Homo sapiens: one gene and its partners. The protein of the gene in region 7 purifies or fractionates together with the protein of the main gene of each other region. This does not show direct contact. Each region holds a gene or a part of one and is shown on either strand. Other genes may lie near its edges.

The links.
Region 1: the proteins of TNKS1BP1 (region 7) and LMAN2 purify together in Homo sapiens (affinity purification with mass spectrometry, with the first as the bait; one large-scale study listed by BioGRID). This does not show direct contact.
Region 2: the proteins of TNKS1BP1 (region 7) and CCDC61 purify together in Homo sapiens (tandem affinity purification; one study listed by IntAct). This does not show direct contact.
Region 3: the proteins of TNKS1BP1 (region 7) and CAPZA1 purify together in Homo sapiens (affinity purification with mass spectrometry; 3 studies listed by BioGRID and IntAct, with this or other methods). This does not show direct contact.
Region 4: the proteins of TNKS1BP1 (region 7) and CNOT9 purify together in Homo sapiens (affinity purification with mass spectrometry; 2 studies listed by BioGRID and IntAct, with this or other methods). This does not show direct contact.
Region 5: the proteins of TNKS1BP1 (region 7) and EARS2 purify together in Homo sapiens (affinity purification with mass spectrometry, with the first as the bait; one large-scale study listed by BioGRID). This does not show direct contact.
Region 6: the proteins of TNKS1BP1 (region 7) and SPTBN1 purify together in Homo sapiens (affinity purification with mass spectrometry; 2 studies listed by BioGRID, with this or other methods). This does not show direct contact.

What each region holds. Positions count from the first base shown.
Region 1 is NC_000005.10:177,331,067-177,334,668, forward strand, and holds the end of LMAN2 (vesicular integral-membrane protein VIP36 precursor), read right to left. Parts: intron 3,338-3,602; coding exon 3,218-3,337; intron 1,181-3,217; coding exon 1,020-1,180; 3' UTR 501-1,019; downstream 1-500. UniProt on the Homo sapiens protein: Plays a role as an intracellular lectin in the early secretory pathway. Interacts with N-acetyl-D-galactosamine and high-mannose type glycans and may also bind to O-linked glycans.
Region 2 is NC_000019.10:45,998,467-46,001,966, forward strand, and holds part of CCDC61 (centrosomal protein CCDC61), read left to right. Parts: intron 1-3,500. UniProt on the Homo sapiens protein: Microtubule-binding centrosomal protein required for centriole cohesion, independently of the centrosome-associated protein/CEP250 and rootletin/CROCC linker.
Region 3 is NC_000001.11:112,654,332-112,657,831, reverse strand, and holds part of CAPZA1 (F-actin-capping protein subunit alpha-1), read right to left. Parts: intron 3,368-3,500; coding exon 3,161-3,367; intron 1-3,160. UniProt on the Homo sapiens protein: F-actin-capping proteins bind in a Ca(2+)-independent manner to the fast growing ends of actin filaments (barbed end) thereby blocking the exchange of subunits at these ends.
Region 4 is NC_000002.12:218,595,210-218,597,580, reverse strand, and holds the end of CNOT9 (CCR4-NOT transcription complex subunit 9), read right to left. Parts: 3' UTR 501-2,371; downstream 1-500. UniProt on the Homo sapiens protein: Component of the CCR4-NOT complex which is one of the major cellular mRNA deadenylases and is linked to various cellular processes including bulk mRNA degradation, miRNA-mediated repression, translational repression during translational initiation and general transcription regulation.
Region 5 is NC_000016.10:23,533,351-23,536,850, reverse strand, and holds part of EARS2 (nondiscriminating glutamyl-tRNA synthetase EARS2, mitochondrial), read left to right. Parts: intron 1-1,490; coding exon 1,491-1,963; intron 1,964-3,500. UniProt on the Homo sapiens protein: Non-discriminating glutamyl-tRNA synthetase that catalyzes aminoacylation of both mitochondrial tRNA(Glu) and tRNA(Gln) and participates in RNA aminoacylation for mitochondrial protein translation.
Region 6 is NC_000002.12:54,644,827-54,648,326, reverse strand, and holds part of SPTBN1 (spectrin beta chain, non-erythrocytic 1), read right to left. Parts: intron 3,099-3,500; coding exon 2,874-3,098; intron 2,400-2,873; coding exon 2,310-2,399; intron 2,134-2,309; coding exon 1,852-2,133; intron 1,197-1,851; coding exon 1,066-1,196; intron 1-1,065. UniProt on the Homo sapiens protein: Fodrin, which seems to be involved in secretion, interacts with calmodulin in a calcium-dependent manner and is thus candidate for the calcium-dependent movement of the cytoskeleton at the membrane.
Region 7 is NC_000011.10:57,304,453-57,307,952, forward strand, and holds part of TNKS1BP1 (182 kDa tankyrase-1-binding protein), read right to left. Parts: intron 1-3,500.

The DNA of each region.
Region 1 (3,602 bases), on a different chromosome or scaffold from region 7:
CAGCCACAGCTGGGGGCGACGATTATGGAAGCTGCCGGGGGTGGTGCCATGCCTTCAGCTGCTGCCTTTCCTCCACTCCCCGTTATCATCTTTGTCCCCTGAGGTGCCCCAAAGGGACTGCCACAACCACCCCCACCATCCTCCAGCCCCTTGCACATCATCCCAGAGCCCCCCGGAGTTCCCCGTCAGTGTACCCGCCTGCCCAGCCAAGCCTCCACGTGGTGCCCCTTACCACCCATCCTTTTACCCAGAGGCCCAGAGCATGTGGGAGACAGCACAGGGCCCCATCCCCAAAACATCACTTGCCAGGTGACACTGGGCAAGCTGTACTTGACCTCTGAGAGCCGTGTGTCCCCAGCTGGGAAACAGGGCAACCCATCCCATCCTCCGGGACTCTGCAGGTCAGAGCAGACGAGCTGAAAGCTCTAAAGCACTGGCGGGCTGGAAGTCATTAGAAGAGAAAGCAAAGCAAGCCCCTCAGGACAGTCACACGGCTGAGGTTGGGTATTTCACTTTATTTAGCAAACGGTCACACTCGGCCCCACCACACCGCGCCTGCAGCCTCACTTGAGCATCTGTCTCAGGAAGCAGCTCAGGGTGAACAGGAAGGCCTGGGTTTCCCAGTTCAGGCCTTATCCGTCGCCACACGTGCCACACACCACAAAACAAAATCACTTCCCCACGTCCTCAGGAGCCCACCCCAGTGTGGTCCGGGGGACCCTCCAGTGTTCAACAGCTGCCTGCAGGGGCCACAGCCCATCTGTAGACACAGACCCCTGCTCCTGAGACACCAGCCCCAGGAGAGCCTCCGTCTCCAGCTGTGGGGGGTGCCAGACCCTAAGCCTCGGCTCTGCCACCTGTCCCTGCTGGGCAAGAAGCAAAATGTATGAAAATACTTTAATCATTTATTTGAAACAGTTAAGAAATAAGGTCATCTTGTTGTTCTTTTATAATCCCGGTAAAAAAAAAAGTTCACATTGGCTCCTGGGCCCAGGGACAGGCCCCGCCGGAGGCGCCACTCAGTAGAAGCGCTTGTTCCGCTCCTGCCGCTTCTGGAACACCACGGCCCCCACCACGGCGCAGACAACGATGCCCAGGAGAGCGCACAGCAGCAGCAGGAACACCCGCCACCCCGTCAGGGGCCCGCTGCGGAAGTTCCCCGTGGGGTCGTCCACGTTGTCTGGGGGAGAAGAAACGGGGGAGCTGAAACGGCAGCACGGGCCGGGGATCAGGGGGCTGCAGGAGGGCAGTGGGGATGGAACAGGACAGCCGGCCACGGTGGGCAGGCCGGTCGTACTCACCCCCCTCACCGGGGAGGGGCAGAGGTCAGGTGAAGCCCATCCCAGCCAGCTCTGCAGTCCCCAGGGCAGGGTGGGGCAGAGAGAGGACCAAGCCCACAGGGACCCGGGACCCCAGCGACAAGCCTGGGCTGCCTTCTGCTGCAGGAAGCCAGTTAAAACCAGACTCCTGGGCTCCTCTGAGTCCAACTCTGGATAAGGGGAGGCCCAGGAGTCTACATATCCAAGCCCCACCCCCACGCTGTGGTCTGAGGGCCCTTTCTGGAGCAGCGCGGCCCTGGTCACAGGCTCTCCCAGCCCACAGCTGGATGCTCTCGGCAGCCCCCCAGGAGGGTCTCCCAGGACCTGAGTCCCACACTCCACCCCAGCCCACAGCCTCTCTCCTCCACACAAGGTTCCCACAGGTCCTGCCCATCCTGGGATGGGGCCCACTGGTACGCTCCCTTGTACAGGCGGAGAGAAGACACTGACTTTCCCAAGCTCTCCAGGCTGTGGGTGGAGGAGCTGGGGTCTGGCTGGGCCCTGTTTCTGCCACTCTGCCTCCCTCCCTGACTGCGGCCCCCCCGACTCCACACTGTACAGTCTCCTCAGGCGTCCCCACACCCAGGCCTCGGGCCCAGGCCCTGCCTTTCAGCGACGTGCATGCCACCCTCTTGCCAGCCACAAGCCAACCTCCATCCTCCCTTCCTGCACAAGCTGCCACCAGCAGGCCTGCTGACCACTCTCGCCCCAGCCTCTGCTCTGCACACCGACAGCAGCGGCCACTGACCGAACGCGGAGGTCCCTAGGGATGGTGCTTCCCCAGAAAGCCACTCAGCCTCAGGGCTCTCACAGCTCCCTCTGTCTCCCTGTCTGCCGCAGACCCTAGAATGAGCCCCAGGGGCAGGGCCTGCCTGATCTCGTGTCTCCAGCACCCAGCCCATGGCTAGGCACAGAGGGCAGCTTTGGTCACATCTGAAGGAACAAATGGATTGAATCTAAAAACGAGTTCATCCTGCCTTGCCAGCTGCACGGGATGCTGGGTGGGCAAGGCAGGTGCCACCTCTGCAAACACCCAGCAGCTGGCAGCCTTCTGACCAAAGGTTGCAGCAAGGTTTGTGTGGTCCCCAAAACATTTCAAAATAATCTGAATCTTTAAAAAGTGAACTGTCACATAAAACACTGGATCTTGGCTTCTCCTGAAAAGCAGAAACACGCGGCCAAACTGGCCCACACGGCATGGGGACCCAGGGCTGGGCTACGACAGAGCCCGCGCCGTGCACTTCTGTCACTGGCTGGACCCCCAGGCACACATCTGTGGCTCTTAGGGTGGACTTCTCCACACACAGATGCCTCATTCCTCCAACCACAACGTTCACTCTGTGAGGAAAGGGGTAGCTAATTAGTGCCATGGGAAGAACCCAGGCTTCGGGTTTTGTAGAAACCCAATTTCCAATCTTGCTCTCTCTCTCCTTCTAGCTAAGGAATCCACCCCCTTGACCAGCAGCACGACTTCTTCCAGGTGGCTCACAGAAGGGACAGGTGGGCCAACATACCCAGCCCCCTGGCTCTGCTGGCCACTGCCCCAGCACCTAGTGAGGGAGGATGCTGGCCCACCACTCACACGTTTGTTGATCAGCCACTGCTTGCTGCCACAGCACTCACGTGACTAGGATGTCCTCAGGGACTGACTCTCTGCAGACTTCTCTTCCGCCTCATTCATTTACTCAAAAACTTGCCAGAGCTGACACGATCCAAGCCCAATACTCTAGGAGCTCGGACAGGGCCAGCCAGTGCCGCTTGCCAGGACCGGGCTGATCCAAGAGCCCAGACCACAACCACCACAACCACGACTGGACCACAAGACCCGCCAGGCTGGCTTCACCCCATTCTGGGTCAGGCCGCCCAGGCCCAGGCAGGGCGGGGCTGTGCACACGCACCTTTGGGCGACTTGAGGAAGTTGACGCTGGGCTCGATCTTGGTCCAGTCGATGCTCTCCTCGTCGGGCGTGTGCTCCACCATCAGCTGGAACAGCTTCATGGAGATGATGTCATGATTGTCTGCAGGACCAAGAATAAACCTGTGACAGCCTACAGGCCAGCCGCAGGGCACGTGGCCCAAGACCCTCCCACAAGGAAAGCTGCTGCTGCAGCCAGTAAACCTGCCAGGCCCCTGGGGAGAGCACTGCCCAGCCGGCTAGGGCCTGTTTTCTTCCCAGCTCCCTCCAGTCACCAGCAATAAAAAAGAGAGGAGGCAGAGTGGAGAGAAAACAGTAAGGGCTTTACAAGCAGAATCATCTGGGTCTAAATCCTGGGGTCTGCCGCC
Region 2 (3,500 bases), on a different chromosome or scaffold from region 7:
ACCCAGCCTGGGAGTCAGGGAGGGCTTCCTGCAGGAGAGGGGATTGGAGCTGAGACCTGGAGGATGACAGGGAATGAGCCGAGGGGAGAAAACCTTGGCTGTATCCCCAGTGTCTAGAACCCCATTCCCTGGCATCTCCCGTTAAATTCACAAGCAGTCCCTGAAGATACAAGATTGATTAAAATGGCTCTGCCCTCACGGGCTCCTGGTCTGTCAAATAATCAACAGATCACACAGATGGTAACAGGGAGTGCCAGCCACTGTTTGAAGCACCTTATATACACTAAATAATTTAGTTCAACAACAACCCTATAAGGTAGGAGCTCTTATTATCCCGCTTTACTGATGGGGGAAGGCCCAGAGAGGGCAAGTACTTTGCCCAAGGACACACCAAGGAGAAAGGCAGCTGGAATCTGAACCCAGAAGTACCCAGCCTGCAGCATGTGCCATGCTTAAGGTGTGAGGCCGCATTTGGGTTAGTTCTGGGAGGAAACAGGAGGTGGTCAGGGAAGGTCAGCTGGGTAAGGGGAAGGAAGACGAATGTTTCTGTCTTTCATGGTGGGATCCTAGACAAGCCTCAGTTTCATCCTCTGTATAATGGGGATGGTTATAATACCCACCAGAGAGCAGAATTTAGGGTGAGTCATTCATTGGGTTAATAAGTGTGCATGGTCCTTATCTAAGGCAAAAGTTTGCCTTTGAGAGACAGTGGGAGAGGGAGTTGATGCCCCAGGGGGAACTGGGGTGCCGCAGTGTGCACCGTAGAGATTTCATTGCTTGGTTCCCCAGAGGGCTTCTCTGTCTCTACAGTCTATGGGGACAATGTGGAAGGCTTTGGTCTGTATTCTGGGGCAGTGAAGGGGGGGTTCTATCCAGCCTCAATTCACCCACGTGGTGGGGAGGTGAGGTCAGAATGGGGTCGGGAAGGGGGTCATCCAGGCCAGGCCACGCGTGTGAATGTGGGGCGGAGGGCTGCTGCAGGAGAGAGCCCATCTAGGGTATGGCTGGGCTGGAATATGTGTTGGCGGTGGTGGGGAGCTGCAGAGTGTGGGGAAACAGCCATCAGGTGTGGGCTGCCAAGGGCAGTGATTTGCCCGTGTCTGGTATGGGAGGTAGTGATGTAGATTTGTCTTTGGTGAGCCCAGCGTGGAGAGTTTTCAGCTCCGGCCCCGGGGTAAGAGCTGTGAAATCTGTGAGCTATCTGGGGAGAGCCATTTGGAAGGTGGAGCCAGGGGTGGTGATGTAACGCTGGAAAGGAAAGGGGTCATCCTAGTGAATGATGAGAGGGAGAGAGCTGGGGGCTGAAACACTGGGTGTAAGTGTGCCAGCGCCATGATGTCATGAGGCCCGAGAAGTGGGTCAGGTGTGTGGGCCAGGATGGGGCCTGGAGGGCAGCCGCACAGTGCTCGCAGGGATGGGGTGGTGACGTCATGGGTTGGTGAGGGCGGGGCCTCGAAGGCACCGCTGGGATGCGTGAGGTCAGGAAGGAGGCAGAGGCTGAGAAGAGGAACTGGGAGAGGCTCAGGACTGGAATGAAATCAGCCACCAGGATGAGCCACTGGTCATTCCGAAGCAAGGATGGAGGATGCAGGTAGAGGGACAGGGTCAGCGGCGGGAGGGGAGAGGGGGCTCAGGGTCCGGGGAATCCTAGAAGTGGCGGTGGTGGTGGGGTCAGTGGAGAGGAGGGGTTGTTCAGAGAGGGCTCTCTAAAGGGAAGAGAGGTGGAAAATATGTGTGCGGGTGGAGTGGGGGTTGGGGGTGGGGTTACAAGCAATTTGGGAGGGAACAGAATCCAGGTGAAATATGGGAGTGATGGAATACAGGCTGAAAGTGGGATGTGTGGAGCAGAACCTTGAGCAAATATGCGGGAAGAATGCAGTTGGAATAACGGGGTGCATTGAAGTTGAATATGCGGGAGCCCTAGGAGACCGTGGGTGGCTGGTGTAGGGAGGAGAGTGCGGCTGCCTCCCTGCCCCCAAATCTGGGAGAGCAGGATGGAATGAAGGGGCTTTGGACGGGAGAGAGGGGGCTGGTTTCCGGGGAATGTAGCATGAGGGTTGGGCTGGAATATGTGGAGTGGGAGGTTCTGCAGAGAGGAGGGGAAGGGGAGTCCAGAATTCCGTGGCCATCTGGGGGACAAGTGACGGGCAGCTGGGGTCAGGGAGGCCGTGTGGAGCTGGCACGGGTGTGGGATTTATTCCATCAGCAGTTACTGAGCACTTAGGACATGCCTAGAGGAGGGGAAGGGGCCGGGCAGCGGGTGAAGTTTGTGGAGGTGAGAGAGGTGTAAGTGTGCAAGGGGAATTGAGTTTAGGCAGAGTATTCGGTGGCTCAGTGTCTGGGATCAGGGCGGGGTGGGGGCTAAGGACAAGGCAATGGGATGCCGAAAGGGGCTGCTCTTCGCGGGGTGGGTATGGGGGGTTTCTGCCGAGCAGTGGGGAAAGGGGAGTTGGCGGCGGGGATGCGGTGTGGCGGGCCCCCTTCCTCTGTGCGGTCTCCTCCCGGGAGTTGGGGACCACGAGTGGGGGCGGTGATGCTGTGCGGCTCCTCAGGTGTTCAGTTCCGTGGGTGCCTCCTACGCCTTGGTAACCCGGACGGTGTCGCCGCTGATAGGTTCTGGGAGCCGGAGGGGGTGGGGTTGATGGGCGGGGTTTAGAACACCCAGTGGGGCGGGGCCAGTGCTGCCACGCACTGCATTGGGGTCAGGGGATGTGGGATATGCGGCAATTTGTTTGCAGCAAGATCGAGATTATTATTTTTTATTTATTTGTTTTTTCTGAGACAGAATCTTGCTCTGTTACCCAGGCTGGAGTGCAATGGCATGATCTTGGCTCACAGCAACCTCTGCCTCCCGGGTTCAAGCGATTCTCCTGTCTCAGCCTCCCGAGTAGCTGGGATTACAGGCACCTGCCACCACGCCCAGCTAATTTTTGTATTTTTAGTAGAGACGAGGTTTCACCATGTTGGCGAGGCCGGTCTCGAGCTGACCTCAAATGATCCACCCTCCTCGGCCTCCCAAAGTGCTGGGATTACAGGCGTGAGCCAACGCACACGGACGAGATCGAGATTATTAACCTGGACTTATGAACCATCAGAGAATGAAAGCACAATTGCCAGAATGTGAATTTTCCAGGGGAAGGGGGTCCCCGAATTCATCAGCCCTTCCAAAGCACTCTTCTCCCAAATGAAGTTAAGAGCTGTGATCTAGAGAGAGGTGTCTGTCAGGAGGTCTAGGGCCTACGCCATTGCCCTTGGGCCTCTGAGAAAAGAGATCTGTGGATGGGCCTGGGGGGTGGTAATTTGGGAGCCACTGAAATGAACTTGCAAAAGGTTTTGGGACTATTCATTTATCTGCAGAAGGCTCAGAAATTTCATTAGATTCTCAAAGGCTCAAGGACTCTAAAAAGGTTAAAAATCCCTTACCTGGAGTTTCAAGGATCATCTTTTTTGCCTCACAATATTGTATTTTCTGATATTAGATTTTATTTTATTTTTTGAGA
Region 3 (3,500 bases), on a different chromosome or scaffold from region 7:
TTACCTGAGGTCAGGAGTTCAAGACCAGCCCGGCCAACATGGTGAAACCCCATCTCTACTAAAAATACAAAAATTAGCCAGGTGTGGTGGTGGGCACCTGTAATCCCAACTACTAGAGAGGCTGAGGCAGGAAAATCGCTTGAACCTGAGAGGCGGAGGTTGCAGTGAGCTGAGATCATGCCACTGTACGCCAGCCTGGGCAAAAAGAGCAAAACTCCATCTCTAAAAAAAAAAAAGAATTAGGGGTTGCTGACAGCAGCCTAAGTAAAAGATAATTTCTAGAAGTGGTTGATTGGCTTCAGTGTGAAATGCCATTCGGAAGTCATGGACAAGGAAAAGGACACTGGACCAGGTAACTCAGGAACCATTAGTAAACTCAGAGCAGTTTCTGTAGAATGGAGACTAAAGTAAAAAATTAAAGGGTTCAGAAGTAGATAGAGGAAATGGCATTAGCAGGCAAAGAATATGTACTGACGTGGTGGTGATGCAGAGAGAGATGAGAGAAGGGAAAAAGTGGAGAAGAGGGAGAAAGGGCAAGGTGGAAAGGGCAGACAAAGAAGGAGAAATAGGCCGGGCCTGGTGGCTCATGCCTTGTAGTCCCTACACACACACAACACACACAGAGAAAAATTAGATAGGTATGGTGGTGTGCACCTGTGGTCCTAGCTACTTGGGAAGCTGAGGCGAACGGATTACAAGGTCAGGAGTTCAAGACCAGCCTGGCCAACACAGTGAAACCCCGTCTCTACTAAAAATACAAAAATTAGCCAGGTGTGGTGGCAGGCGCCTGTAATTCCAGCTACTCAGGAGGCTGAGGCAGGAGAATCGCTTGAACCCAGGAAGGGGAGGTTGCAGTGAGCCGAGACCACACCATTGCACTCCAGCTTGGAAGACAGAGTGAGACTCTGTCTCAAAAAAAAAAAAAAAAAATTTCTGTCAGTTTCAATCCTTACAAAACATGGGGGATTAGATGCCTGTCAGAGGACAATGAAAAATGTTTGGAACATACTATGTAGAAAATGTGATAGGGAATAAGGAGATGAAATTACGGACTACTAAGCAGGTCAGCTGAAGACATAAGACATAGGATACTTATATACAGCAGACACCATCACAACAATTCCATGACTTTCTGTAGGTCATTTGATAGCTAAGGACACAGTAGGGTTATTTGGTGCTGGAGCTCTCCAAATTAAGAATGGGTAGTGACAAACTTTGAACAGGTAACAAACAATAAATTCAAAGTATATTTAGGATTAAACAGTCAATTTCTAAATGGGAGTCTATCATGTCTCCCCTTTGCAATACTGGCTTCCCAACAGGAATTCTATACTTGTCCAGTCCACCATAATGGGTATTCTCATTAAAAAAAAAAAAAAAAAAAAAAAAAATCAAACATAATGACACCTAGCCTAACATTCATCTAACATTTATGTAGAGCTTACTTTGTGCCAGGCACTGTTCCAGGCATATATTACATATATTACTAATTCATTAAATCTTCACAACAACTCTATGAGATAAAAACAATTATTTCCATTTTACAGTCAAAGAATTGAGGCACAGAGATGTTAAGTAATTTACCTAAGGTCACACAACTAATTAATTGGCAGGGCCAGGAATCAAACCAGTTAGTAAGGCTTCAAAGTAGGTGCTCTTAACTGTATTCTAGACTGCCATGTAATTCATCATCATTGTATATTTAAAATATTCTAGTGAAAATTGCTGATTTTCCCACAACAAAAAAATGATAAATATGTATAGAAATCCATGTTATTAGCTCAATATAGCCATTCCACAATGTATACATATTTCAAAATATCATGTTGTACATATCATATTTTTGTCAATTTAAAAATAAAAAATATTCTAATCAATATTTTTCTTAATATGCCATAATTTTATAAAGGAAAAATAATAAAGCCAAATTTATCTATTTTTACAGTCAAGAGGGAGTAAAAGAAAATTAGGCCAGGTGCAGCAGCTCACGCCTGTAATCCCAGCACTTTGGGAGTCCGAGGCAGCTGGATCACCTGATGTTAGGAGTTCGAGACCAGCCTGGCCAACATGGTGAAGCTCTGTCTCTACTAAAAATATAAAAATTAGCCAGGTGTGGTGGTGGGCACCCGTAATCCCAGCTACTCAGGAAGCTGAGGCAGGAGAATTGCTTGAACCCAGGAGATGGAGGTGACATTGAGCTGACACGGTGCCCCTGCATTCTAGCCTGGGTGACAGAGTAAGACTTAGTCTCAAAAAACAAAAGAACAACAACAACAACAGCAAAAACAACAACAAAAAGAAAATCACTCCTGATTAAAAAAAAATTGTTTGGTTTTTTTTGTTTTTTGTTTTTTTGAGACAGTGTCTCACTCTGTTGCCCAGGCTGGAATGCAGTGGTGTGGTCTCAGCTCACTGCAACCTCCACCTCCCTGGTTCAAGTGATTCTTGTGCCTCAGCCTCCTGAGTAGCTGAAACTACAGGTGTGCACCACCACATCCAGCTACTTTTTGTATTTTTTAAGTAAAGGTTTCACCATGTTGGCCAGGCTGGTCTCGAACTCCTGGCCTCAAGTGATCTGCCCACCTTGGCCTCCCAAAGTGCTGGGATTACAGGCATGAGCCACCATGTCCAGCCAATTGTTTAGTTCTAATAGTTTTGATTACTGAATATAAACATCTAAACTATGTAGAAGTAGTTTGTGTAAAAATGCCTATATCAAAAAGCCATAAATATGAGCAAAAGCTCTCTCAACAATCTTAGTATACCATTTTTTTCTCCATGTCCAAACCAAAGACCTTTTAGATCTGGGTAAAAATACAAACAAAAAAAAATTAATTTAAAAGGTTAATTTAAAAAAAAGAAAGAAAAAAAGAAAAACCAAAGACCTTTTTCTGATGGGTGTAAGGCATTTTTCATAAGTCAAATGTGAAAACAGAATACACTGATACCTAAATTTTTTGTGCATTGGGATTTTAAAAAGAAATTTTCCATATAAAAATTTCATTTATACCCCTTTCCAAAATGATTTAGGGAATAAAATGCAGAGGAGAAGAGAGCATGGCTAAGAAGAAAGTAGGGATGTTTGGTAGGCCAAAGCCTCCAAAGGATAAGGTAAATATAAGAAAACACTCTCTGATAACGAAGCAGTCAGATACTTAACAGTACAGAAGCCGTTGGAATAATGGTCTTTCACATAGGCTCTTAAAGCACTGTCACAGGATTCTCTCCAAGACTTCAGACCTCCATCTGCTTCTTCTGGCTGGGGGTCACTTGCTTCTTTCCGTAAGTGGTCAAATTTAAAGGAAATTTTGTTTCTTGGATCTAAAAATCTGCTATTACCCAGGTCACCGTGCTCTGTAATTAAGACCTTCCAAAGAATCATTAAACATATGAGTAACTGTAAAAAAGACAATTCTTACTGCCTTTTATGAAACACATCAATAAAAATTCTGAGGCAGTTAACTTTTCATTTAGTCAGATTTCTTTCATATTAATTTTTC
Region 4 (2,371 bases), on a different chromosome or scaffold from region 7:
GAGTGCAGTGTTCTATGAATGTCATTTAAGCCAGGTATGTTAATTGTTATTCAAATTTTCTGCTTGTTGGCCAGGCACAGTGGCTCATGCCTGTAATCCCAGCACTTTGGGAGGCTGAGGCTGGCGGATCACCTTAGGCCAGGAGTTCGAGACCAGCCTGGCCAACACGGCGAAACCCCGTCTCTACTAAAAATACAAAAATTAGCAGGATGTGGCAGCGGGCGGCTGTAATCCCAGATACCCAGGAGGCTGAGGCAGGAGAATTGCTTAAACCTGTGAGGCAGATGTTGCAGTGAGCTGAGATTATGCCACTGCACTCCAGCTTGGGAAACAAGACCGAAACTCCAATTCCCAAAAACAAAACAAAACAAACCAACAAATTTTCTATTTGTTATATCTGCTTTTGAAATAAACATATGAAAATATTTTTCCAAAAATTAAATTCCATAATGTATCAGGAAAGAAAAATATAATTTCATTCTAAGGTTTCCTATTCCAAATTTTTTCTCTGAGTTTTTGAAAGCAACAACTTTGTATATCCCCCTTTTCCTAGCCTTTAAGCAGCAGGAACAATGAGCAGAGGAATAATATGTAGTTAGTAAGCAAGGCATGCTCTGAAGGCTACCAATGCTGCTCCTGTTCCACCAGTGAAACAGGCCACAGGCCCTCTAAGGCTCTTGAAAAAAGAACGTGGAAGCATAGGGCAGCTGTGTCCCACTGACAGCCAGGCATGGAAACAATCCTGGAGATGTGCTCCAAGCCTTGAACTTGAGGAAATGAACATCAAAGTTCGTAAGATGTTTCAAGCATTACCTTGTCACTATGGAAGTCTCTCCCTACACTGGCACTAAGTTCTGGCCAATATGGCCAGGAGTGAAGTTCTGTCCCAGTAAAACATACTTTTATCAGGTAAGGGGCATCATCCCCCTCCCAGCCTCCCAAACAGCTTTTGTACCTCAGATGGAGTCTCCCCAAAAAACATGTTCACAAAAGAACCACTACTGCCATCTTAGCAGGGCTGTGTGTGTGTGTGTGTGTGTGTTGTGTAGGTAGACAGAGGGGAGAAGCAGGCATGACAAGGATCACCTGACCAAAGTGCCTAGTTACCCATATACTGATAGAATAAAATCTCCAGTGTAAAGGAAAAATTATTTTTACAAAAACAGAAGCATGTTTTATTTCAATCCTGTTAAGGGAGAGGGATGGAAAACACAAAATAAGGGGAGGGGTCTCTTTATATAATACACACACCAGGATCAACTACAATGAATAATACCCATTCCATCCCTCCCCCACCAACTCCTATGTGGGTTCCAAGGCCAGCTGAGAATAGATGGGACAAGAATTAAGACACTTTGGCACAGTAACATGGCCAATGCACCGAAAGATGGAGAGAAGAGAATTTCCCAGGGAGCAAGGCCCTGGGCCTCAGCTGCTTCCCCAGTGGAGGGGTAATGAGAAAACTTTGGCTCAGCAGGAAGGCGGTTGTCAAAAATCTGGGTTACCTTAACTGGACTCTCCAGATCACAGACTACGGGCTGAATAGAGTCAAGATGTCTATCCAGTCCATTCTGTTCTCTGCTTTCTCTAAGATCACTTCTCTTCAGGCTTGCAATTATTGAGGGTTGGCCTGCTTCTCCTCTTCATCTTGGAAGGCAGGGGGAGTAAGTGCTTATTCTGCCCTTCCTATATCTAGGCCACTTAATTACTATTTTCTTGGCTCTAAAGAGACAGAAGCCAACTAACAAGTCCGGCTCTCTTTGTGAAAGTCGGCTTGAAAGAGCCCTTGTGTTGGCAAAACTGCCTCTGCAAATGGGTTTTTTTTTTTTTGAGCCTACCCCTTATAGACCCTCCCCAAGCTTGTTCAGACACCTCAATTGTGTGAGATGTGGGCAGAAAAGACTTGGTCCCTCTCCAGAGTTGGATTAAGCAATCCCATCTTTGACTGGAGATAGGGATGAGAAAGCAGGTGCTAGCAGGGGAAAGAACCGGGGAAAGCAAGGCAGTTTACACTAGGTTGCAGATTCAAGCCTATGGATTGTGAAGAGCCACCTAAGCTCCAGAGAAGAGGAAATCTCTGACACGATATGAACAAGTGAATATTTTAGCGGCAACCCTGTAATTCCCATAGACTAAAAGAGAATGGTCAAAAAAAAAAAAAAAAAAAAAAAAAAAAGACTGAGTGAGCAGAACCCAGCCCTCCATCTTCAATCTGAATAAAATTAACTCATACAGCTAATACTGCTCAAGTACAATCATGAAGACAGATGGAGCTGCTGAAATTCACACTAAAACAAAGAAAAGGATCAAGTGGACTGTCACCTTAATCCCAAGCACCTCCCTTTTAGAGTTATTGAGAAAATATCTTTGA
Region 5 (3,500 bases), on a different chromosome or scaffold from region 7:
ATTAGCCGGTTGTGGTGGCAGGCACCTGTAATCCTAGCTACTCAGGAGGCTGAGGCAGGAGAATTGCTTGAACCCTGGAGGTGGAGGTTGCAGTGAGTCAAGGTCACGACACTGCACTCCAGCCTGGGTGACACAGCGAGACTCTATCTCAAAAAAAAAAAAAAAAAAGAAAAAAAAAGTTTTTTTTTTGAGACAGGGTCTCGCTGTGTCACCCAGGCTAGAGTGCAGTGGTGCCATCATAGTTTACTGCAGCCTCAACCTCCTGGGCTCCAGTGATTCTTCCACCTTGGCCTCCCACAGAGCTGGGACTACAGGAATGCACCACCACACCTGGCTGATTTTGTTTTGTTTTGTTTTGTAGAGACAGAGTCTCACTATGTTGCCCAGGCTGGTATTTTAAATTTTTAAATAAGAGACAGGATTTTGCTATGTTACCCACGCTGGTCTTGAACCCTTGAGGTCAGGCTGTCCTTCTACCTTGACCTCCCAAAACACTGGGATTACAGACGTGAGCAACTGTGTCCAGCCCTGTGCACCATTTATTGATTGATTGAACACTTAGCTGTGGCAAAGACTAACCTTACAAGCATTCCATCTGTGTCTCAGAACGCTTTTGGGTGCAGTTAGTGGAATACCCTGTTAGAAGGGACAAACGATACTTTAACTCACAGATGGATCACCTGGGGACCTAGTTAATGTTCAGATTCTGACTCAGTAGGTCTGGGGTGGAGCCTAAGAGTCTGCATTTCTGGCAGACTCCCAAGAGGCTGATGCTAGGGGCCCACAGACCACACTTTCAGTAGCCAGGGCATCAATCATAGACATTTGTCTTTTGATTCTGCACAAGGCTGGAGGTGGGTGACTCCAGGATGAGACTAGCAGTGTAGAGACACCAGGGCTCTATTTTGGCTTCTCTCTGACTTCATTGCCTTCCCTCCTGCAGTTGCAAGTAGCTGCCGCAGGTCCAAGCATGCTCCCCTTACAGGACAACATCCAAAGAGGACAGAAGTGGGGCAGTGGGAAATTTTAAGAAGGGATTTTCCTCCTGTGGCTTTCTCTTCTTGTCCTTTGGAGAGAAAAACCTTTCCCGGAACCTTAAACCTTTCTTACTCCCCAGGCATGCTTTTCTTTGCATCCCAGTGACTAGGATGGGGTTACATTCCTGCCTGGACTGGTCACTGGCATGGAGCAATAGGATTGCAAGATTGGCTATACCAATCAGGATTCAACCCCTCGGACTAAGCATTTTGCTATTTTCTTGTTAGCAAGGAAGAAGCGTGGAATGGCTGGTAGATAGGCAGACATTAGTGTCTGCTACACCATGTTATCTCAGTTTTCCACACAACTGTACCATCATCCCTGTTATAGACTGAGGAAGCAGCTTGCAGCAGTAACTGACTTGCTTAAGGTCACACAGCTATGACAGAGGTAGGACTCCTGTCCATCAACCTTTCCATCAACAGTACTCATGCTGCTCTGCTCCCCATCAGGTATGACAATCGGTGCAGGAACATGAGCCAGGAGCAGGTGGCCCAGAAGCTGGCCAAGGACCCCAAGCCTGCGATCCGCTTCCGCCTGGAGCAGGTGGTGCCAGCCTTCCAGGACCTGGTCTATGGCTGGAATAGGCATGAAGTGGCCAGCGTGGAGGGAGACCCAGTCATCATGAAGAGCGACGGCTTCCCCACATACCACCTGGCCTGCGTGGTGGACGACCACCACATGGGCATCAGCCACGTGCTGCGAGGCTCTGAGTGGCTCGTCTCCACTGCCAAGCACCTGCTCCTCTACCAGGCCCTGGGCTGGCAGCCACCCCACTTCGCCCACCTGCCCCTGCTCCTCAACAGGGATGGCAGCAAGCTCTCCAAGAGGCAAGGGGACGTTTTCCTGGAGCACTTTGCTGCTGATGGCTTCCTGCCCGATTCCTTGTTGGACATCATCACCAACTGTGGCTCAGGTTTTGCAGGTACGTGCCCACCTGAATAGTCCTGGCAGCAGAGAGCATGGCCAGGAGGAGCAGGGCTTTGGCTCAGACAGTCCTGCTCTTTGGTCCCAGCTTTGCCACCTACCAGCCAGGTGACCTTGGACAAGTTTATTCTTTTATTCAATAAATGTTTATTTTGCCAGACACCACATTAAGTGCTGGGGCTACAGTAGTGGGTGAGATAGACATGATCCCTGCCCTCAAGGGACTTATAGTCTCTGAGCCTCAGTTGCATATCTGGAAAATGGGGATAAGTGTCTACCTCATTGGGTTAGGATTCACTGAGCTCAGGAGTGTAAGGTACCCAGCCCAGCACCTGTCACACTGTAAGCACAAAAAATGACAGACCCTATGATTGTGACAATTATTACAAGCATGTATGCTAACAGTATGACTAGAATTAATATGGATTTAGTTTCTTTTTTTCCTTCTTCATTTTACTGCCAGATGAATCTAGTTTATTTCAAGCTGAGCACTTACCCATGGTCCAAGACTTAGACCCAAACCTTGAAGAAGCAAGCATCAAATAGGATGACCTGAAGGATTTCTGAAAATGTGTCCAGAATAGCCTGCCTGCTGGTCTCATTTCATTTAACACAACATACTATTAAGGGGTAGATACATATCTCCACTGTTTGTAAGAGGATTGTGAAGCTCAGAGAAGCTGAGTAACTTGCCAAAGTCACACACCTAGTGAGGGATATAGCGCTTTAGGCCTATGCCTGATCACGATGCCTGCTGACCGTATGGGACTGAGCTGCTGCTCACAAGAAGCAGCTCCCAGCACTACGGTTCTTAACTTTTTTTTTTTTTTTTTGAGACAGAACTTCTTGTCCCCCATTCTGGAGTGCAATGGCGCGATCTCGGCTCACCGCAACCTCCGTCTCCTGGGTTCAAGCGATTGTCCTGCCTCAGCCTCCCGAGTACCTGGGATTACAGGCACCCGCCACCACGCTTGGCTAATTTTTGTATTTTTAGTAGAGATGGGGTTTCACCATGTTGTCCAGGCTGTTCTCGAACTCCTGACCTCAGGTGATCCACCCGCCTTGGCCTCCCAAAGTACTGGGATTACAGGCGTGAGCCACCGTGCCTGGCCTGGTTCTTAACTCTTGATCGTGCTTTGGAATCAGCTAGGAAGCTTCTAAAATATGCTCAGACCCCAACCAAACCCAGTTGACTCAGAGTCTCTGGTACAGCCAGGCAATGGGCGTACTGTTCTGCAGCTCGTGTCTTGAGAGTAATGGAGATGGGTTTAGCCTGATTGTTTTCAGACCTTTTTTTCTTTAATGATGGAACCCTTTCTGAAAATGAAAGCTCATTCAGGCTCTTGATATATAAATAGCTAGAAGTTAAATCCCTTTGGGCAAAGTGGAATGGGGGGCCCAGGGCTTGCTCACTCAGCCTCCCTTATGTTTGAAAGTAGAAGGAGGGCGGGCACAGTGGCTCATGTCTGTAATCCCAGCACTTTGGGAGGCCAGTGCAGGAGGATCATTTAAGCCTGGGAGTTTGAGACCAACCT
Region 6 (3,500 bases), on a different chromosome or scaffold from region 7:
ACAAAGGACATGTTGGTGCCTATCCCTGGAGACTAGGAAGGCCACTTTCCTGGGAATCCTGATCATGAACATCTTAAGAACCTCCTACACCAACAGAGCCACTGACCTCATCTCCCCTAACCTGCCCTGGTTAAATGCACAAGGCCAATTCCTTTCCAAGTCATAAAAGGCATTTACACAAAAATCCTAAAATGACTGCTTTGGAAGTTAATACAGGGGCCTGATGAGTACCACACACTCACCTCTTCTTTTTCCTCGAAGGTGTTCTAATCACTTGATATCGAAGAGTTAGGAGGTGTTATCACTTTGTTCTTCCTGGGAGCCCCTTCATTTTACAGGTCTATGCATTCTTGTCTAATGCTCCTCTTAAAACTAGTAATTACTTTACTAAACTGGATGACTTTTTCAACCCAAGTGTAAGTGCTATGACTATCTGTATCCACCATGCAAGTCAACCTGTACTTCTGATCATTTTTATTTTTTTGAGACAAGGTCTCACTCTGTCACCCAGGCTGGAGTGCAGCAGTGTGAACATGGTTCACTGTAGACTCAAACTCCTGGACTCAAACCATCCTCCCAACCTCAGCCTCTTGAATAGCTGAGTAGTACAGACGTGTGCCACCACACCCAGCTGATTTTTTGTATTTTTTGTAGAGATGAGGTTTCGCCACATTGCCGAGATTGGTCTTTGGCCCCCTGGGCTCAAGCAATCCTCCCACCTTGGCTTGGTAAAGTGCTGGGATTACAAGTGTAAGCCACTTTACGTTGACTGCCCAGCCTAGTCAACCTGTACTTTTGACTCACGACACCAATATTCTTTCAGGAGAGCCTTGGCCAACGGGAGATATTTAACCCACAAGAGCAATTTCCTAATATAACAGTTCACCCATCCTAATCATGATAGGATGTTTTAAATGATGGGTCTGTTTTAAAAATGCTTCTCAAAGATTTGCCTTACCAGCAAGTCATGATGAATGCTGACATTTTCTTTTGGTGGGGGTTAGCAAGAGACCCTAACTGAGAGGAATCGAGAGCCGGGTCTCACACTCATGAAGCAGCGCTCACCTTTCAGGATGGCTGTCGGCCACCAGGGCCCGGCTGGTCTTGGAGAGCTGATGCACGGTCTCTGCATAGTCCTCCACAGCTTGTTCTAAGATCTGGTGCTTCTTCAACATGGAGACAGCACTCTGCTCATCCTGCAAAGACAGGAGAACATCACAACCATAGCGGTCCCCTCTGGCCCTACCCCTTAAGGAGTGACAGACCAGCTGCTCAGCAGGGTAGGAGGAAGGATCAGTAGAAAGAAAAACTCCAGAGGTGCAGTACGGACAGTGGAACACAGAAGTGTTCCAAGAGCTTCCATATGGACTGGACCACAGAAGCCTGTGCAGAAGATAAACACAAGGAGAACGCAGAATGAGCAGGGCCCCTCTCAGAGAAAAGCTTGGGCAGACCAAGTGTGCCTGGTTCGCTGGAATTCCTCAAGGTCCCTCAAGTATGTAAATGGCAGCATTCCTGGAACCTTGCAATACTTTCAAATTGTCTCCAAGCCATCCTGTATTTTGTAAAGTTTAGGGAACCTATAAATAGACAGCAGGAAGGACTCTGGCATATTTCAAAGATGAAAGGATGAACCTGTTCTTAATGGCACACTAGGATTCAGATAAGAAAATGCTGCACCAAAGGGAAACCAGCAGCTGGATTTCAGACACCTTCATGCACATGGTGTCCCCTTAACACTCAAAGGCTACAAGGGAAGTTTTTATACAGACAGAGCCGCCAGCAGAAAGTGTGCCCAGGGTTTGAATCTGAGGCTCTCCTGGGACAGGGATGCTTCCCGCCTCCTCTCACCTTGGCCTTCTCCTCTGACATCATGTACAGCTCCTGCTCGCTCATCCAGGCTTCGGCCTCAGCAGCGTCAAAGTAGTACTGCTGGGCCCTGTGCGCCTCCTCCAGCCGCCTGTGGCGTTTCTCTGTCTCCTCAATGAGGAGACCCCACAGCTGCTTCAGGTCGGCAAGCCTCTGTCTGATGGCCTCAGCGCTGAGGCTGCTGCTGTCAGTGACGATGTTTTGGCTCCTCTCAAAGATGTCGTCAATGCGAGGCTGGTGCCCCTGGATTTCTTTCTGGAGGGTCTGGAGGGAGCGGAAAATACACACAAAGGCTTGCTAAATGGCAGCCGTCTGCTGCTTATGTCAAGCTGTTAGGGCCAGAAAGAAATAGCAAGGCTTCAAAGCTCTCTGCCATTCCCAGTCTCATAATTTAGAGCAATTATTTATCAGACAGAACTAGCTCGAGCAGAAAGGCTTACCTGATTTTTCTTTATTAACAGCTGCACAGTCTGGAGGTTGTGGCCATGATCCGTGGAAGTTGCCAAAGGCATCCTCTCTCCAACCCACAACTGGGAAGAATTTTAAATAAGTGGTCAGATCCACTCAGAGGAACAAATATACGACACAAACGAGCAGTGAGGGGCAGTGAGGGACAGCAAGGGTGAGCTTCAGAGAGTGCTCAGCCCCCTCGGGAGGGCTGTCTGGGGAAGCACGCCCTTGTTCTCCGAGACAGGGCTAGGGAGAGTCTTTCCAACTCTACCTCATCCTCAAGGTCAAACTCACTGTGAGTCCTCATTACTTTTAAAAAGTCTGTTTTAGGGCCATTAAAATCCTACAGTATCCCTAGATAACGTGAGAGGACCAATGGAGTTACATTTAGGGTGAAAAGGGAAAGAAACTTTAGACCATCCAGAGCGTGGACTTTGGCAGCTCAGCTTGCCAACGTGGCCCAAGGTGAGGATGACTGAGAAGTGAGAATGTGGGCTTTAGCACAGGCAAGGGGGCTCGTGGAAAAGCCATGTGTGCAGTAGGGGTCGACTCACGATCTCGTCCTCCACATCCCTGTTGAACTGATGGATCTCTTTGGAGGCCAGCAGGTTATGCTTCCTCTCGTTCAAGGGCTCCAGCAACTCCATGAACTTGGTCTGCACGGTGAGGCGCTTGCTGTCTACCTCGTCGGTGCTCTTCCCTTCCTGACTCAGGGCCTGGGCTTGGCTTTGGAGCTCTTCGATCTCCTTCTTCCGCACTTCCATCTGATTCTCCAGCATCTGAGGGCAGAGAAGCAGCCTCAGCGCTCAGCACAGACTATCTTTTGCAGTGACTGGCTCTAAGCAGAACTGCTGGGCCTGGGACTTGGCCACACCGCAAAGCCAGCCATGGGAGCCACTCAAACATTTTGCCACTGACTTGCTTTTCAACATCAATGGAACTGTTTTCAAGTAAATCTGAGGTAAATTCATTTGCCCTTAAAGCCCTCTACGGTGATATAATATAAACAGTTATTTTTATTACCTATAAAGTGCCTTGAACAACTCAGATAACTGTCACAAATCACGATGTTAAACAACAAAGTATGAGAATATTTCTTTCGTGTAAAATGCAGAATTGAATGAGATGAACATTTATTTAACTGTTAAACGGTGATAATACCCATTAACTAAGAAAATTAT
Region 7 (3,500 bases):
CAGCTTAAAATCAGGGAGAATTTGGAGGGAGGGGGTGGCAACAGCACCCCACCCAGACTACAGAGGCCAGGCCCAAAGCCTCTCCCTGGGGTGGGGCAAAAGAAGGCTAAGGGCAGGCCCCATGAGCTAAAGAGATGTGAAATGCCCTGGCTCACGCCTGTAATCCCAGCACTTTGGGAGGCCAAAACAGGCGGATCACCTGAGGTCAGGAGTTCCAGACCAGCCTGGACAACATGGTGAAACTCTGTTTCTACTAAAAATACAAAAATTAGCCAGGCATGGTGGCAGGCACCTGTAATCCCAGCTTCTTGGGGGAGACTGAGGCAGGAGAATCGCTTGAACCCGGGTGGTGGAGGTTGCAGTGAGCCAAGACCGCGCCACTGCACTCCAGCCCAGGCAACAAGAGCAAAACTCCGTCTCAAAAAAAAAAAAAAAAAAAAAAATCCACTCCTAAAGCGAGAGGTGGCCCAAGCCACTCAGGCAGAGGTCAGTGAGCTCTGGAGGTGGCCTTGAGGAGCAGAGAGTGGCGAGTGGGGAAAACCCAAGAAAGTGCAGCTACGTCCACCCCGCCGGACTAAACCCCACTCGCCCTTCACCCCATCTTAGAAGCAGCTTTCCTACCCCTAAGCACCCAGATCATGTATAAGCTGAGCCCCTCCCGGCATGGGAGCAGGAAAGAGGGGTAGTTAGGAACACAGGGACTGAGTCCTGCCACTCCAGGACACAGCTAGGCTCTGTCTCCTCCTATGCCTGTGGCTTTGACCACAAGTTATTTGTCCCACTCTGAACCTCAGTTTATCTGTAAAATGGGGATAATAAAAGTACATAAACTGTTCTAGTTTGTTGGCAGAAATATGTGCCTAACACATAGTTAGCACTTGACAAATACAACAAATTATTAGGATAGTCATTATCATCCTCAACACGGGTCCCTGGCCAGAGAGGATGTGCCTCATCTTGTCGCATCTACACCCTTCACCTGGTCTAAACTTTAGAGTACCCTGAGGACCAAGACGGTATCCCACCCCACCCTCCACCACTGCTCCAGAGGCAAACATGGCGCTGGAACTACAAAACGTGAATATCCCAGTGTTCTGAGACCTGAAATGAGGGAGGGGTGAAGCTGGAAAGATGTGTCTAGAGAAATAGCAGCTGACCTTGACCCCAGAGAGACAGGGAGGGTGCCCAGAGAAGACTGCACGGCTTGGGCCCAGGGAGACAAGAAGAACCCACAGCCACCAGCCGTGGGAACCGGTGCAAGTCACACTGCCTCTCTGGGTCTCAGTTTCCCTAGTTTTTGTGAGGAACAATTAACAAAACCCCATGAGTACTGGGAGTAAGTTACTCCCAACTTACAGACGAGGAATCGGAGGCCCGCAGAAGAGAACAAACTTGCCCAAGGTCACAGAGGTGGTGACAGAATCAGAACGCAAGCCTGGCAGATGGACCCAGAGCCAGACCCCTCTGAGCTATTCTCAAGGACTTCTCGTTACAAAGGGAACCTCCAAAATTTTCTTTAAAGAGAAAGTGCCCATAGTGGGCCAGGCATGGTGGCTCATGCCTGTAATCCCAGCACTTTGGGAGGCCGAGGTGGGTGGATCACCTGAGGTCTGTCTGGAGTTCAAGACCAGCCTGGCCAACATGGTGAAACCCCATCTCTGCTAAAAATACAAAAATTAGCCGGGCGTGGTGATGTGCGCCTGTATTCCCAGCTACTCAGGAGGCTGAGGCAGGAGAATCGCTTGAACCCAGAAGGCAGAGGTTGCAGTGAGCCAAGATCGCACCACTGCACTTCAGGCTGGGAGCCTGGGCGATAGACCAAGACTCCGTTTCAAAAAAAAAAAGAGAAAGTGCCCATAGTGTAGAATTTCCCTACATCAGAATTTCCCTGCTCAGAACACTAGGTTCTTGGACATTAGCCAAATTAGCTTGGAAAATACTGCATTACTTGTCTTTAAGGTACTAATATATGCTAATATACAGACTAAGTCTTCTGTACGGCCACAGAGTACCCAGCATTTTCCAAACATATTCACAGACTGGTATTCTTTAGGACACATTTTAGAAAAGGCTGCCCGAAAGCATAAAATTCAAACAAGCCCCTCGAACTCCTCTCTAAAGCAACTGTTTTCGTTCGGCTTTTTGAGGAGCCGTGCTTTCTGTTAGGAGCCACGCTTTCTGTTGCATACAATGAGGCTCACCTGTATGGCATCACGGCTAACCCCTGAACTCGGGTTAAAGTCAACACTGGCCAGATTACGGTAACACAACCACAAAAGCCTGGGTGTTTTAAAGACACAATGATGACACTATCCTCCTCTTCCCCTAACCTAGTCCCATCACAATCCCCGCCCCACCTCCCTCCATCCTAAACTAAGGGAACAAGATGATCACTTTCCACTTCTTAAGAGCCACCCCACACAGAACGGAAAGGCAGAGAGCTGTGGTGGTGGGGGGGGGGGTTGGGTGGGAGGGGGGCAGTGGTCCCACAGTGGCCACACCTGAAAGCAGTTAACATATACAAGTGAGAAAGAGGTACTCCTGACTCTTTGCCCTTAAGGGGTCACACCACCTTTCGACCCTCCAGCGGAGAGGATAAAAATCACTTTCCTGCTTCACAGAGCAGCTGTGAAGATCAATGAGGTAAGACGTGTGGTTAAGCATGGGGTGTGCAAAGTTCTATGAGTCCCAGGAAGAGAAATCAGGAACAACCACGCCAAGCCTGGACTCTCCCCTGCACCAAGAACATTAAAGCTGGAACTCTGCACTTCCTGAGTCAAACCCTGAGAAACTGAGGCTCAGAGCCCAGCAACCTGCCCAGGACCACAAGGGCCTCCCAACTCCTAGTCCTGCGCCCTCCCCTCGTCCCTGCAGTCCTCAATGCAGCCTCAGTGGTTCCCTGTGCTCCGTCACCACCCCGTCAACAGCCTGAGTCGTCAGGAAGCTCCACTTCCTCAAATCCCCCTGGGCATCTCACTGGGCCCATCTTCCTCTCTCCCTTCTCCTCCTCCATCCCAAATGCCTCTCCAGAGTCCCCAAGACCACCATGATATGCTCTAGCCCCTTCCTGCTCCTCTCCTCCCACCACCAACCCCTTCCACTTATAAAAGCCCCTGCCCCACACTTCCCTTGCCTTCCCCACATACCCAGTGAGAAGCTCCCACTGTGGGGCTGGAAAAGGTAACATTTTCTGCTCACTAAAGGGAATAAAAGCGAATCTCAATGGATGGAAATGTTAACAAAACGGATGCAATGCCTTTTTAGCACGTTTCTCAGCTGCAAAACCATCTCAGCTGGTTTTAAAACATCCATGAAACAGACTGTGCTTGCCTTGCAAAGCCTTTGGAAAGTTCTTTCAGCAAATTTGCACAGAGGCCAAGGTCATGGGGCCAGGTCCCCATACCCTTCAGGTTCTTGAACTTGCTATTCCAGGCTTCAAGACAGGACAGGCAAGAAGCACCAAGTACCTAACCTCTTTGAGAACCCGTGGGTTCCACTGT